2 separate regions of the Homo sapiens genome follow, and region 2 is linked to region 1. Evidence: fine-mapped expression QTL. A gene starts in region 1. The other region holds a variant in brackets. All regions are shown on one strand. Distances are between the middles of the regions. Region 1 holds the start of FOXQ1 (forkhead box Q1). Region 2 has its middle 80 kb from the start of FOXQ1.

The links.
Region 2: its variant is fine-mapped to the expression of FOXQ1 in thyroid (GTEx, PIP above 0.99).

Annotation. Positions count from the first base shown.
Region 1 is chr6:1,308,177-1,316,503 of GRCh38, forward strand. It overlaps FOXQ1 (forkhead box Q1), which reads left to right and starts at 3,922. Exons shown (of 1, transcript NM_033260.4): 1 at 3,922-6,582. The coding sequence starts at 4,529. The coding sequence ends at 5,740. RefSeq lists an enhancer at 4,376-5,092.
Region 2 is chr6:1,227,962-1,236,288 of GRCh38, forward strand. No RefSeq gene overlaps it. Among named protein-coding and RNA genes, the nearest start is that of FOXQ1, 80 kb to the right of the region's middle. The variant C/A (reference allele first, on the strand shown) is at 3,825.

The DNA.
Region 1 (8,327 bases):
TTGTATCTGCACATCTTTGCTCCTCCTTTTATCCTTCTTTTTCTCTTTTCCACCATTATCAGGCCTGCCTCCCTGCCTCTCTCCACTCCCCAGGACCCACCTCCCAATAACTACTTAATTCAATGGGTACCCAGTGGCTTTCTTGCTGCTTATAATTCCTGAGGTCTCAAAAGAAAACTTCAGGCACAGCCCTTGGTTTTGCACCTGGTCAGTAATGCCCAGCCAAATTCTAAGATTCTTGGATTAAACCATGCCCATTGCTCAAGAAACCGAAAGAAGACTGTTCAAACAAACATGGTAAATGTACAAACAAATGAGCCTGACCCTATTAAAACATTTTTGGAAAGAAGCAAAAATACAGACACGTAAAAATGCCTAAGTTTTCTCCGTCTACTTCCACACTCACCTTCAATCCTTGCAGGATTTTTCCAGTGTTCAGCATCTACCAAAAGAATCAACCAGACCATGAAATGGGCTAGAACAGAGTTGGACAAAGCACTCCTTTTCTTCCCATGTATTTTCACTATGAGGAAAGGTAAAGAGGCAGCTGGGCTTTATCGCTGTAGAGGCCCTTCACTGCCACCTGACCTCGAGCCCCAAGTCAGGGCCCTCTCCATGCCCCTAGGGAGACTCTGCAAGGATTCAGAGCCATGCATTTTGCCCTGGGACTCTCAACATTAGCCTGGTCTCTAAGCCTGAGGCTCTTCAGTTCTTCACAGCATTGTACTGTAGATTCATCCAGAGTCCCAGGTCCCCATGGGAAGGTAATTTTAAGTTTACCCTCTCTTCAGATCCAGAGGTTAACACGACAAGAAATTCAAAGCTGTTTCCAGGTTGCTGGGTGGATGTGATCAAGATTGTTCTGTAGTCCCTTTGGGCTGGGAGCCTGCGTGATCTTCTAATGCATAGGGCAAGTCATCAATATTTCCACAGGGAGTCACCTTAGGTATTTTAGGAATTAAATTATTTTCTTCCCAAGATTAGTGTTTAGGAACTGGGTCAGTGAAGCACTATCAAATTATGGAAAGCGTTAAATTTGCAGATAGTTTCCACAGTTAATTAAGTTACTTTGTGCCCAGAGATACATGCACTATCTTCCTAAAATCACCACTTCAGGGAGGTCATACGATCATGGAAATATGAACTTATCTTTTGCCATAGTTTATTCACTTATCTCCATGGAAATTAAAGGGCAAGGGGGAAAATAAGCTAATAGGTGTTTCTTACCTACAAGTGTTTGGTCAAGCTCCACCTGCAGGCATTTTTTATTAACCCATCAATGTACTCCCCAAGGAATGGGAATTAAGGGGCAGAAATATCCAAGCACTTCTGGGAAACTTTAAAAAAATGCATGTGACGTCTGGCAGCGTCTGGTCTCCCCAACTGTATTCAGCCTTGAGGGTGTTGTGGATAGACACGCCCTGCTCCATACATTCTCGGTTTCTCTGATAGCTGCAAAAGGTGAATGATTTCCCCGCTGTAAAACAACAGCTAAAATTGATACCGACATCAACCACAAATGGAAAAAGCAGTGTTATTTCTGGTTTTAACAGAAGACAATCATGTTATCCTCAGCAAATGGCACATTCATGTGTCAAGGATAGGGGAATACAGTCATGAAGAAAAAAAGAAAAAAACCCTGCTCTAGTGGAGCTTCCATTCTAGCTGAGGTAGGGTTTTTTTTTGTTTGTTTGCTTGTTTTTGTTTTGTTTTAATCCTATCCAGGTGGTCCACGGCCTGCCATGCCATCTTCCTTCTCAAAGTCCACTTAGGTGGCTGCAAGCAACCTCTCACCTGCCCATTCCCTAAGTCACTCTAAAAATAGCAAAGGGTTTCCAGCTGAGAATTCACCCACCTCCAACTCACTCTCTTGCCCCCCAACCTTTTCAGGCTCCAAACTTGCAGACAGCAGCCCACAGGATAGACATAAAAGGTGGGGCAGGTCCTTGCCCCCCTTGCCCCAAATGAAATCAGGGTAAGGAGAGGATCCCCTGCAGCTGGGGAGGGGAGGAGGTTGGGTAAGAAAGGGGGAAAGTGGGACATGGAGGTGGGGTGAGCCACCTTCCCTGGCGGCGACCAGCATTCCTTGGTGGCAGGACACCTTGGCCCTGGAGTCTCGAAGAGGCCTCCCTTGGACTCTGTAGCGACCACGGGTCCCACCTCAAGCCTCCTTGGCTTTACCTTCCCCATCAAATAGTCATGTGCCCTCCTGCCCTGCCCAACCCCAGAGTTCAAGAGAGAAAAACATTCATTACGAACGCCTTTTATCCCTGGCCAAATCCAAGCCTCTTTACCTCGCTATATATATATAGATATACATATTTGTCTCATCCCACTTCCCTCTCCAGGTCTAGTGAACCATCAACTCCAAGGCTAGAGCTGAGCAGACCCCTCCAGAAAGGCTCATCTCCCAAAAAGCAGCCATTCCCCACCTGGCTCCCGAGGCGCATACTTAATAAAGTCAGTCTAATCTCCGAACGCGATCCTTCCCCAAATACAAAAATAACAGAGCTGTGGCTGGGGCTGTCATGTTGCCCGCCCCATTGTGAATGGCTTCAAAACTCCCTGAATAAAGATAAGAGAGGATTGTGTACGTTTTCAACACAAATGGTGGAAAGTAATAAAATAAACATCAAAGGTGAGCTCCCACCTACTAGCGGCTCCGTCGCTTTTTGTGCAACAAAGGCAGGAAAAAGGAGGAAACTCGGCGTGGCAGGGCAGCGGGCTGGAAGTGCACCTTCCCGGGGCCGAGGCGCCCGCTCCCTGGACTAATGACGCCGCGTGGGGATCACGCCCCGGGCGCCCTGGGGTGAGGAACGGTCCCCCCTTTCGAGATTGTCCGACACTGGTGCCAGTGAGGTCACAGCAAAAGTCCCAAAGGAATATTGGAAAGAAATGGCCGTGAACCGGTTTGTTCTTGCCCCCGCCCCCGGGAACACGCCCTCTCCGTCGTTCCTGTTGACTGTCAGATCCCGGGAACCAAGCGGCGGAGCTCGGCGGCATCTGAGGCTTCCGCAGGGACACAAGTGCAGGCACAGCCCAGCACCCTGCGCCAGACACAGCCGCCCCAGGGGAAGAGGAGGACGCTGCTGTCCTCCCGCAGGAGTCACCAGCCAGGTAAAGAAAAAGGTAAAGTAAGACAAAGAAAAGTGAAAGTCGGAGCCCATTTAGTGAGCAAGAGTAAAGGTCATCCAAAAAGGCGCATACAATTTCAAGCCCAGGAGTGCATTCATTAAAACAAGAGGAAAAGACAAGATGGTCCTTGAAAGGAGCTCATAGGAAGGGGCACAGCACAAGGCTCCCGAAAGAGGTCACTGCAAGTGTCCTGCGCAATTTCTGTTCAGCACCTCTGCAGTGACGACAGGGGTTTGCTTTCGTAAGCAGCATCGTTTTCACTACTACAGAAGCACATACGCCGCGTGCAGCTTAGGCCCGAGCAAAGTCCCTGCTCCCCTAGACCCAGTCCCTTCAGGTGTCCCCCTAGGGGAACTGTGGCGTGTCCCCCCAACCAGGCGCACTCGCCTAAACTGCGTCCCCGAACTCCAGGGCGCAGGGAGCCCTCGCGGGCTGCCCGGGGCTGGGGCCCACACCTGAACGGAGGAGCCGGCTGGCGGAGCGGCCCCGCGCGCGCACACACGCACACTCACAGACACGCGCAAACCCACAGCGGCGCGCGCGCTCCCCATTGGCGGGAGGAGGAAGGCGGGGCCGGCCGACCCAAAACAAACAACCTGCGCCAGCGACTTTGCCGCCGCGCTGCAGTGTGGCCTCCGCCTGGTGCGCGCCCGTTGGGGAGCTGGGGAACTGGGGAGCCGCCACCACCTCGGCCACCTCGTTCCCCCACCCCTTGCCGTCCGCGCTCAGGCCCCGCCCCCGCGGAGCCGCCGCAGGGTTATATTGGGCCGGCCCGAAGGTGGAGGCGAGACGCAGCCGCGGCAGGCCAGCGGGGAGATGCTGCCCCGGAGGCTGGGAGCGGGAAGGCGGCTGCGGGCGCAGCGGCCTCGGGGACTCGCCTCCGCGGGTGCTCAAGGCTGAAGGCGCCGGACCTTCCCCCACGGTGGCACGCACATCATCCGGCACCATTTCCGTGCCCCGAAGACGCCCGCGCGGGACCTGGGACCGCCAGTGAAGAACCCCTCCTGGGCTCTTTAACGAGCAGCAGATGCGCATGCTGCTTCTCTCCGGCAGGAAAGCCTTCTAAGCCCGGCGTGCTCGGGCACCCGAGGGTGGAACCGCGGCCCCTGCACACACTCACCCCAAAGTCTCAACGTCGAACCGAAGGCGACACCCACCCAACTCCTCCCTCTCCGCCCCATAGTCCACCCAACACTTGCAGCCCCTCCAGAGAAAAAGCCCAGCGGAAGAGGACTCCGGAAAAGTGACTATCTCGGAAGACCAGGGTAGAGCTCCCGGGAGAAAAAGGCGAAGATCCCCGGCCCCGGATCGCCATCCCCTTCCCTGGCACCAGCTTCTCTAGGCTGCGCGAAGGAAGAGGGTACGACGCCGGGGAGGGACTGGGTGCGCGGGCATGAAGTTGGAGGTGTTCGTCCCTCGCGCGGCCCACGGGGACAAGCAGGGCAGTGACCTGGAGGGCGCGGGCGGCAGCGACGCGCCGTCCCCGCTGTCGGCGGCGGGAGACGACTCCCTGGGCTCAGATGGGGACTGCGCGGCCAACAGCCCGGCCGCGGGCGGCGGCGCCAGAGATACGCAGGGCGACGGCGAACAGAGTGCGGGAGGCGGGCCGGGCGCGGAGGAGGCGATCCCGGCAGCAGCTGCTGCAGCGGTGGTGGCGGAGGGCGCGGAGGCCGGGGCGGCGGGGCCAGGCGCGGGCGGCGCGGGGAGCGGCGAGGGTGCACGCAGCAAGCCATATACGCGGCGGCCCAAGCCCCCCTACTCGTACATCGCGCTCATCGCCATGGCCATCCGCGACTCGGCGGGCGGGCGCTTGACGCTGGCGGAGATCAACGAGTACCTCATGGGCAAGTTCCCCTTTTTCCGCGGCAGCTACACGGGCTGGCGCAACTCCGTGCGCCACAACCTTTCGCTCAACGACTGCTTCGTCAAGGTGCTGCGCGACCCCTCGCGGCCCTGGGGCAAGGACAACTACTGGATGCTCAACCCCAACAGCGAGTACACCTTCGCCGACGGGGTCTTCCGCCGCCGCCGCAAGCGCCTCAGCCACCGCGCGCCGGTCCCCGCGCCCGGGCTGCGGCCCGAGGAGGCCCCGGGCCTCCCCGCCGCCCCGCCGCCCGCGCCCGCCGCCCCGGCCTCGCCCCGCATGCGCTCGCCCGCCCGCCAGGAGGAGCGCGCCAGCCCCGCGGGCAAGTTCTCCAGCTCCTTCGCCATCGACAGCATCCTGCGCAAGCCCTTCCGCAGCCGCCGCCTCAGGGACACGGCCCCCGGGACGACGCTTCAGTGGGGCGCCGCGCCCTGCCCGCCGCTGCCCGCGTTCCCCGCGCTCCTCCCCGCGGCGCCCTGCAGGGCCCTGCTGCCGCTCTGCGCGTACGGCGCGGGCGAGCCGGCGCGGCTGGGCGCGCGCGAGGCCGAGGTGCCACCGACCGCGCCGCCCCTCCTGCTTGCACCTCTCCCGGCGGCGGCCCCCGCCAAGCCACTCCGAGGCCCGGCGGCCGGCGGCGCGCACCTGTACTGCCCCCTGCGGCTGCCCGCAGCCCTGCAGGCGGCCTCAGTCCGCCGCCCTGGCCCGCACCTGCCGTACCCGGTGGAGACGCTCCTAGCCTGAGTAGCGCCGCGGGGCCCGGGAACGCCGAGTGCGCGCCGTCGGGGAGGCGGGAACGCGGGCCCGCGCGCGGACTTTGCACTTTGAATCCAGAGGAAGATGAATTTTTAAAATCTCCATCAAACGTGCCTTAAAGCTAAAGCATTTTGACAGGAGTATTTAAACTTAGTCCAGGATATTTTCCTTTGTGTTTTATAACTTTACAGAGGACCAAAGCAATTCTTGTTTTAGTTTCTTTGCGAAGCCTGCTCCTCCTTCCCTTCATAAGGACTTTTTTTGTCTTTCTTTAACGCCCAGGCTTCGTCTTATTTCTACTGTTTTTGTCGCAACTTCCATTGATTTATGTCCCTTCCCTCCCCCCTAAGTACATCAGGGAACCTTTCCACACTATAAATGATATGACTACTGTTTGGGGTTTCTGGGCCCCCATCCGTGTACGTATGTGGCATTTCCAGGTATGACTGAGTGTGAGAGACATGTCAGAGGCTCTTCAGTGATTTCTTGCTATTGACCGATGCTTCACTGTGCCAAAAGAGAAAAAAAATGTTGGGTTTTGTAATTAAATTATTTATATATTTTTGAAACCCGAATTGAAAATGTTGCAGGCAACGGGCTACAGCTTTATTAGTGGTTCTCTAACTGTGGTCTCCTTGGGCCAAGCAATTTCTTTAAAGGAAAAGTTGATTATGTATGTGGGGTGCCAGGACCACTGCCTTGAAAGCAAGTGTGATTTTTATTTTTAATATTATTTTATTTGTGTCTGTGTACATATTCATGTATAAATTTTATGAAACCCAAGCATAGTGCTTATTTTTTAATAAAACAACTGACTTAACACATTGTGATGATGGGTTGGAAGTGGAGAGATTTTTATGTCTGTCCCCCCTCCCAAAAAAATGGGCTCAGGTTTTGGTCTCAAGAAACTTCCTCTGGAGATAAAAATATTTTCCTGAATAATTCGATAAAGGTATTATAGAATGGGCTTGCAGATTTCCGTATGAGATGCATTGCTAGACAGATTTCCAGATAGGACTTCCATTCATGGGCTTTTTAAAAGTTGAAAACCAATTACTCCTCTAATTAGTCACCTAAGTGCTTCCAGAACAAATGAGAGGGAAGTGTCCCTCTCTCCCCCAAGAATCCTTAGCAGGCAAGTTGAGTTCTTAACAAGCCTAGAGTCAAACAGATATTTTCAGGTAAATTGGTTTCGATTTGGGGCTCAAAAAGTTGGAGCCCCAATTTTTTTGACAACTTTTTTGTCATAAGACTATCTTAAAATATCAAAGGTGTCTTCAGGGCAATTTCAAAAGCAATTTAAATGTCATAGTGTTTTTGTCAAAACAAAACCATCCACCTTTTTAGGAATGCAAAAGTTCAACTGGGTGTGAACCAATGGGTAGTATTTTTTTCACTCTTCCCTCATCTGTAAAGATTTCACTTGAAGCAGTGGCAATGTCTTGCATGTTTCAGTTGCAGTCTGAAGAGAAAATGCCTCCTGGAGAGAGGGAGAGACAGTTTCCCATATTATAAATGTAACGGAGGATTTTCATCAGTGGGAGTACCAGGGTGAACACCTGTTCTTCAGTAGGTTCCTAGGCAATACAGTTTTAACAATGCATGGATTGCAAAATTTTAGAGAGTAATACAAACTGTGGGAAATGCAGAGACTAGAAACAGGCCTCATTGCCATGGCTGCCATTCTTGGGTAGATCCCATCTTACCCAGGACAGGAGGATGATTTGAGCTCTACATATAATGAGGTGGGGAAGGAGGGTGGCGTTTATTTCAGGATGCTCTCTTTTGGCAGGAATGGGAGAGAAACAATCTTCCCTAAATCAGGTTAACAGATGATGAGTCTTGACTGATTTGGATGACATCTACTTAGTAATCATAAAGAGTGATAATAATAGGGTTGAATTACGGCAAGAGGTAGACATTTGCACCCACAGGGCCAATAATCCGACCCCAAAATAAACCTGAAACAGACCAGCAACTAGGGGCAGGGGACAACAGGTTCCCTGGGTAGAAATGATCAGACCTCAACATGTTGCTTCCCTCTTCAAAACACATGGAGGAGAGAATGCGGGAGAGCAGGGAGTCAGCCAGCTCTGTCCTTCCCACCTCTGGTTCCAGGGGACCTTGTCTCTCCCACAGTGTGCCTCACCCACAGAGGCAAAGTGCAGCCTACTTGAACATCTTTTTTGTAAAGCCACTGTTTTCTTGTCTGCACTGATACGTGAAGACAGTCCTGCGAAGGGAGATTTAAAGTCGCTTCTGATTTATTCGTGTTAACACACAAACAGCAAAGTGAAAGACAAAGGTAGTGTTCCAAAAATCCCGGCTGTTCCGCCCTCCCCTCAAAAGAAAAAATAAATCCTTCCTTGCTAATGAACACCCTGGAGTCTGGTAGGATGCTGTCCCCTCCTAGCTTCTGGTCCCCTTCTTTGTTTCCCCAGGGACTATAAGCGTTTCTAAAAAATTGTCAGAGTCGCTTGAGTTTTGCACCCCTATTTCATGACCATTTCCAAGCTCAGTATCCCACGACTAGAAGGACATCACACTGGGCGGGCGGGGCGGGGGCATTGGAGGG
Region 2 (8,327 bases), 80 kb before region 1:
CAGCATGCACCTGGGCCGCAGGCTGGCCGAGCGCCTGAGGGTTGCACCACCTACAATATCATCATTGTGTAATCCAGTCCTCCCTCTGTCAGCACAACAGCACAATCTAGAATCACCGATTTCCAAATCACAATGTAATCACACTGTAATCTATGTGTTTAAGAAAGGAGAAGCCACACACATACAAACACGATCACACACCATTTCCTTGAAGTCACCAGAACGGCAACATCTAGAACAAATAACCTCCTCTGGGAAGGTTCATTTCTCCACGGTTAACCATTGATGGGCTGGCGTGATCCCTTTAAACATGGGTCGCCAGAACTCAAAGCCCACAATCAAGGGTTTATCTAGGAGATAGTATTCCACAGCACCTGCTCAAAAAGGACAGATTGCCTGGAGCGCTACAGGCTAGCAAGGTAAACTTACGAGTGGGTGGCCTCCTTCAACAAAGAAACTGCACTTCTGCCCTTCTTAATGCCTGGAGTTAATTCCATCCTCAGATTTCATTTGAACTCACAATTCTGGCACTGAGGATCAAAGCCTGCAGACACCATTATCGAGTGGATTTAGATATTCAGCAAATGCACCCTTTCCCTGTCTCACACCTTTACCTGCTGGTGAGTTGGATGGTCCCATTGGAACCCAGCTCTTTCCAAGGTTGAGCAAGAGAAAAAGAGGCTTCAAAACCAGTGGTCTCCTGCCCGGTTAATGAACCACTCTTCAAAGAGCTGTGTGGGAAGCAAGCTTATACGCTGAAGCAATGCCTCAGATGATCTGTGACCTCTGCGTAGCTTGCCCTCCACCTCCCCATTATGACAGCTAGCTAATGGTTTTCTGAATATTTCCAGCCTGGAATTCCCCAACTTTCTTGAGGATAGTAGAGCCCCAGAGGCAACAATTGCAGGGCACGGAGCAGAATTTTTTGCATCACCTCTCAGTGAAGTTTCAAGAGACATGTTTTTCCCAAGTGCACTCAACGCCGACGCCTATCCAAACTCCTCACTCTCTCACAGGGCTCTCAGGGCAGGACGGCGTACCCCCTCTGCCCCAGCCAGTTCTCCTTACCTGAGCACCCATCCTCTCTTCCTTTCTTTCCCTTCGTGAGAACGAGGAGGTTGGAATGGCGAAAATGTTTTCTATGCCAAACAATTCTGAGCAGAAAGAGGACCTTTTCCTCTGAAGCTGTGATTGATCTGAAGGAGGCTAACTTCATTGGAGAGCAGTGGGTTCCAATTTGTCACCAGATTACAAGCAAGGGTGTTTCTCCTTTCTCTCATTTCATCAGTTAACAATTCATCAACATGTGTTTATTGGCACCTGCTATAACTCTAGCTCTGTGCTATGGATTTCAGGTGGCAAAATACATGGAAGACATTGACTCTTTCAATAAGATGGACTGCCCACTATGTGCCAGGCACTGAACACGCAAAGACGAACCAGTCTCAACCCCTGCGGATGAGGAGCTCAGCCTAATGGGAAAGGCAGGTATGTAGACCAAGGTTTCCCAGCCTCGGCTCTGTTGGCACCTGGGGCCAGATGGGCCTGTGTGTGGGGCTGTCCTGTGCGTGGTAAGATGTCTTCAGCATCCTTTACACGCACCCATGGGAGCATGGCACCCACCTCTCCCCAAGTTGTGACAACCAAAAATGTCTACAGATGTTGCCAAATGTTTTCTGAAGAACAAAATCGCTACTCTCCCCTGTACTGAGAAACACTGATATAGACAAATATGTACAATATAGTGTAATAAGTATAGTAGTGGAGTTATATACAAACTGTGGTTGCTGCACAAAAGACAATGTAAACATCTTTGCCTAGGAAGGGATCAGAGGAGGTGAGACTTGAACAGAGCCTTGAGGGAAAGAGTGGGGACTCAAGGGGTACACAAGAAAGGGCAGGGGTGACATCAGGTGGAAAAGTGGTGTGCAGAAAGGCGAGAAGACCCAAAACTGCAGGAAACTGCAAGCACCTGAGCAAGATCCAAGCTGAGAGCATGAGAGAAGGCGAGTGGACGAGGGAGCCAGGAGGGGAGCGGCAGCCAGGACACCGAGGCCTCGGCACCCGCACAAAAGGGTTTGGCCTCTCTTTGTAGAAGATGGGCACACGGGATGTTTTCAGCAGGACCTGATGTGAAGAATCATTTTTACTTTTTTCATTTCACTGAGAAAAAGATATTGCCTTGCTCTAAGGAACACTGAAATCTAGCATAAAAAAAAAAGACACACAGGAAACGTTACCAAACAGGCAGCCACATCTCTTACAGATACAATAAAGAGAACGGGAAGAATCGTCACTACTGGTGTTTATAAAAAACAGTGTGCAATTCTTCTTGTGAATAATATTGCTGTCTGTATTATTGTTTTAAATAAAGAAACCTCTAATTTCTTCATTGAACATTCACCAGGCTGGGAATCTTTCCAAGTCGGGCACTGGGTCTGGCTTATCTCTGTGCCCAACAGCTGGTAGGGAGCATGGCACGTTGCAGAACCTGGGTGAGTATTATGGGATGAATGATGTTCCAGACCAGGGGTCAACAGACTTTTTTGTAAAGGGCCAGATCACAAATACTTTTGCCTTCGTAGGTCAGGTGGTCTCTGCCCTACCCCCTCAACCGTGCCCTCCTAGTGCAACTGCAGTCACAGTCTATGTCTAAATGAATGAGCGTGGCCGTACTCCTGTAGAAATTTATTTATAAAAAGAGGAGGCAGGCTGCATTTGACCAGAAGATCATAGTTTGCCAGCTTCTGTTGCAGACAAACGTGTTCTCAATGAGTTAAAGAGGAGACGTTATTCAGAGTATTTATCCCAAAGTAAACATCCCCAACAAACACTGGGAAGACAGCCTCTTGGTCCTAAGTTCATGTTATTTGTCTCCTCTTACAGATAGAGGTACTCACTTGCTCTAATAAACTCAAAGTAATAGAGTGCTAGAAACAAAGAGGTCTAAGTTAACTCCTTCCTTTTACTGCTAAGGAAACTAAATCCCCATAATCTAGAGTGCCTTGCCCAAAATTCTGTGGCTGTCTTCCTCTGATGCCACAAATCTGGGGAAGAAAACTTAAACCCATTGCATCTAGGTGCAGAATTCCCTGCTTATGCACTGCCTCACTCTTGTGGGGGGCTGAGTGAGCCAGGCTTTCACCACGGAAGGGTGATACTCCAGGACTGGCAATGAGAAATTCACTAAGCCACACTCAGGTGGGATATTTGGCAATGCAGTCCTATGTTGCATCACATCCAGTCAGGTTGCAGAGCCAGCAGTGTCCACATTGGCTACGTCCAGGGAAGCACTTAACACCAAAGCCAGAGCTGTTCCAGGGTTCCAAAACACGCCAAAAGAAACGAAATCCATAGCATTTGATTTAGCAGAGAACACAAAGCACGCAATAGTCACTTTTACTTGGATTCACTGATGAGGAGGGCTTGAACACCAAGGTCTTGATAGTGGTATTCCTTCCAATAACGTTGTACCCAAGCCCCAGCTGAGAGACCTTTAAAGATCTATTTCCTGTTGATTTGGGGGAGAATTCCCAAAGTGCTATAATTTGGTTCCCAGTGCACAGCAAACTCTGTAGCTCAATACAAGTTAAGAGATTGTCTGAACCTCTGAGGCACTTAAAGCTTTCCATAGGAGTCAAGATCGGGCACCTGTATTTCTTATGCTTCACCAGTGAAAAGACCAGGGCAATGGGAGCTCGCACAGACAGTGGCTTCCCCAGGTCCTCCACGGGCCCCACACTTCTTTCCTCCCTGAGCCTGTCACTGCACAAATTAGGTACATGTTATGGTTGGAGAAAAGTGTGTTATTTTTTATCAGTTTA[C/A]TTTGGTTTTAATCTTGAGGTGCTTCCCATTCCAAGGTTCTAAAATAACTAAACAGACGTGAAAAATTGCAGAAATGGCATTTCCAATGGAAAACACAGTAGGATTGTAGGAATGTGGTGTGAAAATGGTTTTTGAAACAGTTCTGGAGTCAGGAAGCCAGAGTTAGAAAGTGCCAGCAAGGTAAAACCCCAGGCACATTGTACAACAGAACAATAGAAGGCGATTTCTTCCTGTCTCCTATCAACAACACTTGATTCGCTGATACACACCACCCCTCTCCTTAATGCCTTGGTTAACAAACCAACACACCCATCTTACATAAACTGCCTTACTCAAACCTACACACCCCAAATTTACACTCGAGTGAGAGATTCTCGTTAGCTGTTTAGAACAAGTCAGCACAATTACTCACATTTTGACTCAAAAGATTCTTCATGCTCAGATGACTTCTTCAAAATGGGATGGAAGAAATACCACAAAAGGCTGCTTGTGGCATTTGAATGCTGGAGGCTGCTTGGATACATTAGGACAGATACACCTATTTTTTGAAAGTGCTAAATCATTAATTAATTTGGCCCCAAGAGATTCACAACTGTATTTTATTTTAAGATCTACCTGATACACACCAGAACACATTTCTTTCCTCTCATACAGTTTTTGGGATACATAAAAATGAACTCTATTTCCAACAGGCAGAATTTAGACTGTCAGGATTCATCATGTCTTACCCACATGTCACCCACCCGCCTCTCCCTTACAAAAAATACCCTGGTTGTTCTATGTATACCAGTGGTTTTCAATAGGTAGTGCAATTTTGCCTCCCAGAAAGAACCCCATCAAGGGGACATCTGGCAATGTCTACAGACATTTTGGGTCATCACAGTTGAAGGAAGGGGTGCTCCTGGCACTCAGTGGATAGAGGATAGGGATGTTCTAAACATCCTACAGTGCACAGGACAGTCCCCACTGTAAACATGCAGCCTGCCCCGATGTCACCAGTGTGGACATTGGTAAACCCTGACTTACATGTATGGCTGTTATGAACCACACTGTGTAACTGCTCAAAAACTGGGGGCAGCTGTAGGCTGCATTCACAGCGTCCACCTACCCTGAGAGAGTCCATGTTGTTCATGGATATAGGATTTGCTTCCCACCTTGGGAGAGAGGAGACCCTCGGCTGCCTGGGGATATGAAAGGAGAGGACACCGGGCTGGGAAGACTCTCTGGGTCCATGCAGGGCGTTGATGGTTCTAGGTAGCTGGATTTTACTCCAAAGTCTGCCTGGATTCAGGGCCAACTTTCCAACAGAAGCATGGCGTTGGCCTTTCTCTTAGGAAAGACTATTGAAGATGTGAATGAGAAAAACGTTGGTGATTGAAGGACATCTACCTTCGGGATCTTATGAAATCCGAGTACTATTTTAAATTCTGAAAGAGGCACACTAAGTTTCCTTGGGGCCAAAAAGTTAATATAAAATATGAAATAAAAGGCAGTAACTGTGTACACTGGTGGGTTCTTTCTGCACACAGGAAGTCATGTCTAAGGTTAGGGTCTTGTCTGAGCACTGGGTCTTCAATGTTCTAATTTAAAAGTATAATTGAGCCAGGCGCAGTGTAATCCTAGCACTTTGGGAGGCTGAGGCAGTGGGATCACCTGAGGTCAGGAGTTTGAGACCAGCCTGGCTAACATGGCGAAACCCTGTCTCTACTGAAAACACAAAAAAATTAGCTGGATGTGGTGGTGCACACTTTAATCCCAGCTACTTGGGAGGCTGGGGCAGGAGAATCGCTTGGACCCAGGAGGCGGAGGTTGCAGTGAGCCCAGATCGCGCCACTGCACTCCAATCTGGGTGACAGAGGAAGACTCCATCTCAAAAAAAAAAAAAAAAAAAGTATAATTGTATAAATTTCCAATTATACCATTACAATGTACAATGGTAATTGTAAAAGTAATGCATCCCTAGGGTGAGGTTGGAGAAGGGACTCTAGGTAGAAGTACACGGAAAGGTTCAAGGACCAAAAGTGTTCCACACCCTGGAAGCAGGAGAACTACAGGCATGTCTATGTGTGGGCAGGAAGAAGCCAGAGGAGGCTGTCGGGGGACCGGGAGGACCTCGCCTGCCGGCATCTCCCTGACCCAGGCACATCTGCCTGTTCTTTTGAATAGTCCTCATTCTCAGTCTTTCTTCTAAGTGCGCTGACTGTGGCTCTGTGGACTCATCAGCTTCTTCCACCAACACAAAATGCAATCAACGCATCAGGATTCATGTCGCAGACTCACCCAAAGCCACCTGGGGCTTTCTAACTTTCTTCATCCGTCTAAGCTTCTGTCGCCTCTTAATCACGCTGGTGTGATTTGGTCACCTCTTAATCCCTTTGGGACACGAAGATAGTTCTCCCTGATAGAGAGCAGGCTTTCTCCCGTCTCCTGTTAGCAACACATCCTCTGTGATGTCAGAGGCCTGGCCCATCCTCACTCTTCTCGTTGCTCCACCGGTAGATTTGGAAAACCCCTTTATACCCAGCCGTGCCTCTTTCAGCAGCCTCGCTGCCTGGGAAACTTAGCCTTCCCGGCACTCCCCTGCAGCCTGTGCCTCTCCAGGCTCTGTCTCTGGTGATGTGCATCCTCTCCCACATTACAGGTTCTTTTTCTATCAAAGCCCATCAGAAAGTTCCCAGTCTGCCCCCTTGGGCTTCTTTGCACCTCTGAGAGCACAGGTCCTTGGCCATTTAGCCAAGGGACATGGCTTCTAGCCTCTGAGCTCCTCCCCAGCTCTTCACCCCAACGCCTCCCCACCTCCTTGAAGGTCTGATGGTCAAAATCTACACCTGACAAGGCCCCAGCCAGCCATCACCATCCATCTCAAAAGCCATATACTTCCTTCCATTTGCAGTGTCTTCTTTGAGGCATCTGGAACCTCAATGACCAGAGGGGAAGGAGAATCCAGGAAAGAAAGGAGGTGCACAAGCTACAGAGGAACCGGGGTTGGGAGTGAGGGAGGTACCCAGCACCCAGTGACACCCAGATGGAGAGTGAGGGAGGTACCCAGCACCCAGTGACACCCGGATGGGGAGTGAAGGAGGTACCCAGCACCCAGTGACGCCCGGATAGGGAGTGAGGGAGGTACCCAGCACCCAGTGACGCCCGGATAGGGAGTGAGGGAGGTACCCAGCACCCAGTGACGCCCGGATGGGGAGTGAGGGAGGTACCCAGCACCCAGTGACGCCCGGATGGGGAGTGAGGGAGGTACCCAGCACCCAGTGACGCCCGGATGGGGAGTGAGGGAGGTACCCAGCACCCAGTGACGCCCGGATGGGGAGTGAGGGAGGTACCCAGCACCCAGTGACGCCCGGATGGGGAGTGAGGGAGGTACCCAGCACCCAGTGACGCCCGGATGGGGAGTGAGGGAGGTACCCAGCACCCAGTGACGCCCGGATGGGGAGTGAGGGAGGTACCCAGCACCCAGTGACGCCAGGACGGGCAGTGAGGGAGGTACTCAGCACCCAGTGATGCCTGGACATAGTTCAATCCAGCATCAATGCCCAAGGAGGGGCAGTGGGCAGGAGAGAGGCGGCCACAGCATTCTGTAGTTCTAGGAAATGGTTCTAGGAAATGACACCACTGCAATCCCCCTCAGTGTGGAGGGTGGTCTTAGGACCCACTGAGGAGCATCTCTGTGTCCCATGGGGAGGGACCAATGAAGAGAGCAAAAGTTATCATTTGTGGGGGTCCTAGCCAAGCAGACTGAGTTTCCAGGTAGGACTCCAGGCCTGGAGTTTCAATCAGCTGTCTTAGATATTATTATTAGTAAAGAAGAGAAAACAACTAGCTAGCTGACACTAACAGGGAAAGGCACTCCCAATATCCTTTAATATCCTTCTGACTTCCTGAGACAGTTTGGTCCCAGAGATGCCTAAGTCTGTAGTCCCTGCATATCCCTGAATGAGGCTCAGTCACCTCAGCAGCCTTAACTGAAAATGCAGCACCTTCCTCCATTCCAAAAATGAAAGTGTTTAGACCAGAACCTACACTCTTAGAAAACATTAGGAACGTTTCCATGGGTCACCGGGAGAAGTCAGGCTAAGCAGCGCCGTCTGCCTGCTCCCTCTCTGCTCCCTATGTCCCATGAGCTCTTTTGCATGCAGAAATGGGCACATGTGCAAAGAAAGCACACAGCTGCACAGTCACACACATCCACTTCTGGGGAATACTGGCAGAAGCTGGCTCATGCTGCAGGCACTGGGGAAGCAGCCTGGGGCTTTCTTAGAGCACGCATCAGCCTCCAGCTGCACTGGGGGTTCTGAGTCTACACACCTTCTCCCTGCCTTGTCCAGCACTGGGTCAGGCACTATGGAGTCAAAACCTAGAAAGTGAACAGCATCCACACCATTGCCTGTGCAGGCAAGGATACAAAAGGAGGGAGGCCCCGAGCCTCCAGCACAATGTGGTGTCTGCCTCCTTAGAATCATGATGTACTGTTTCCCAAGCAGCACTGTGAGAAG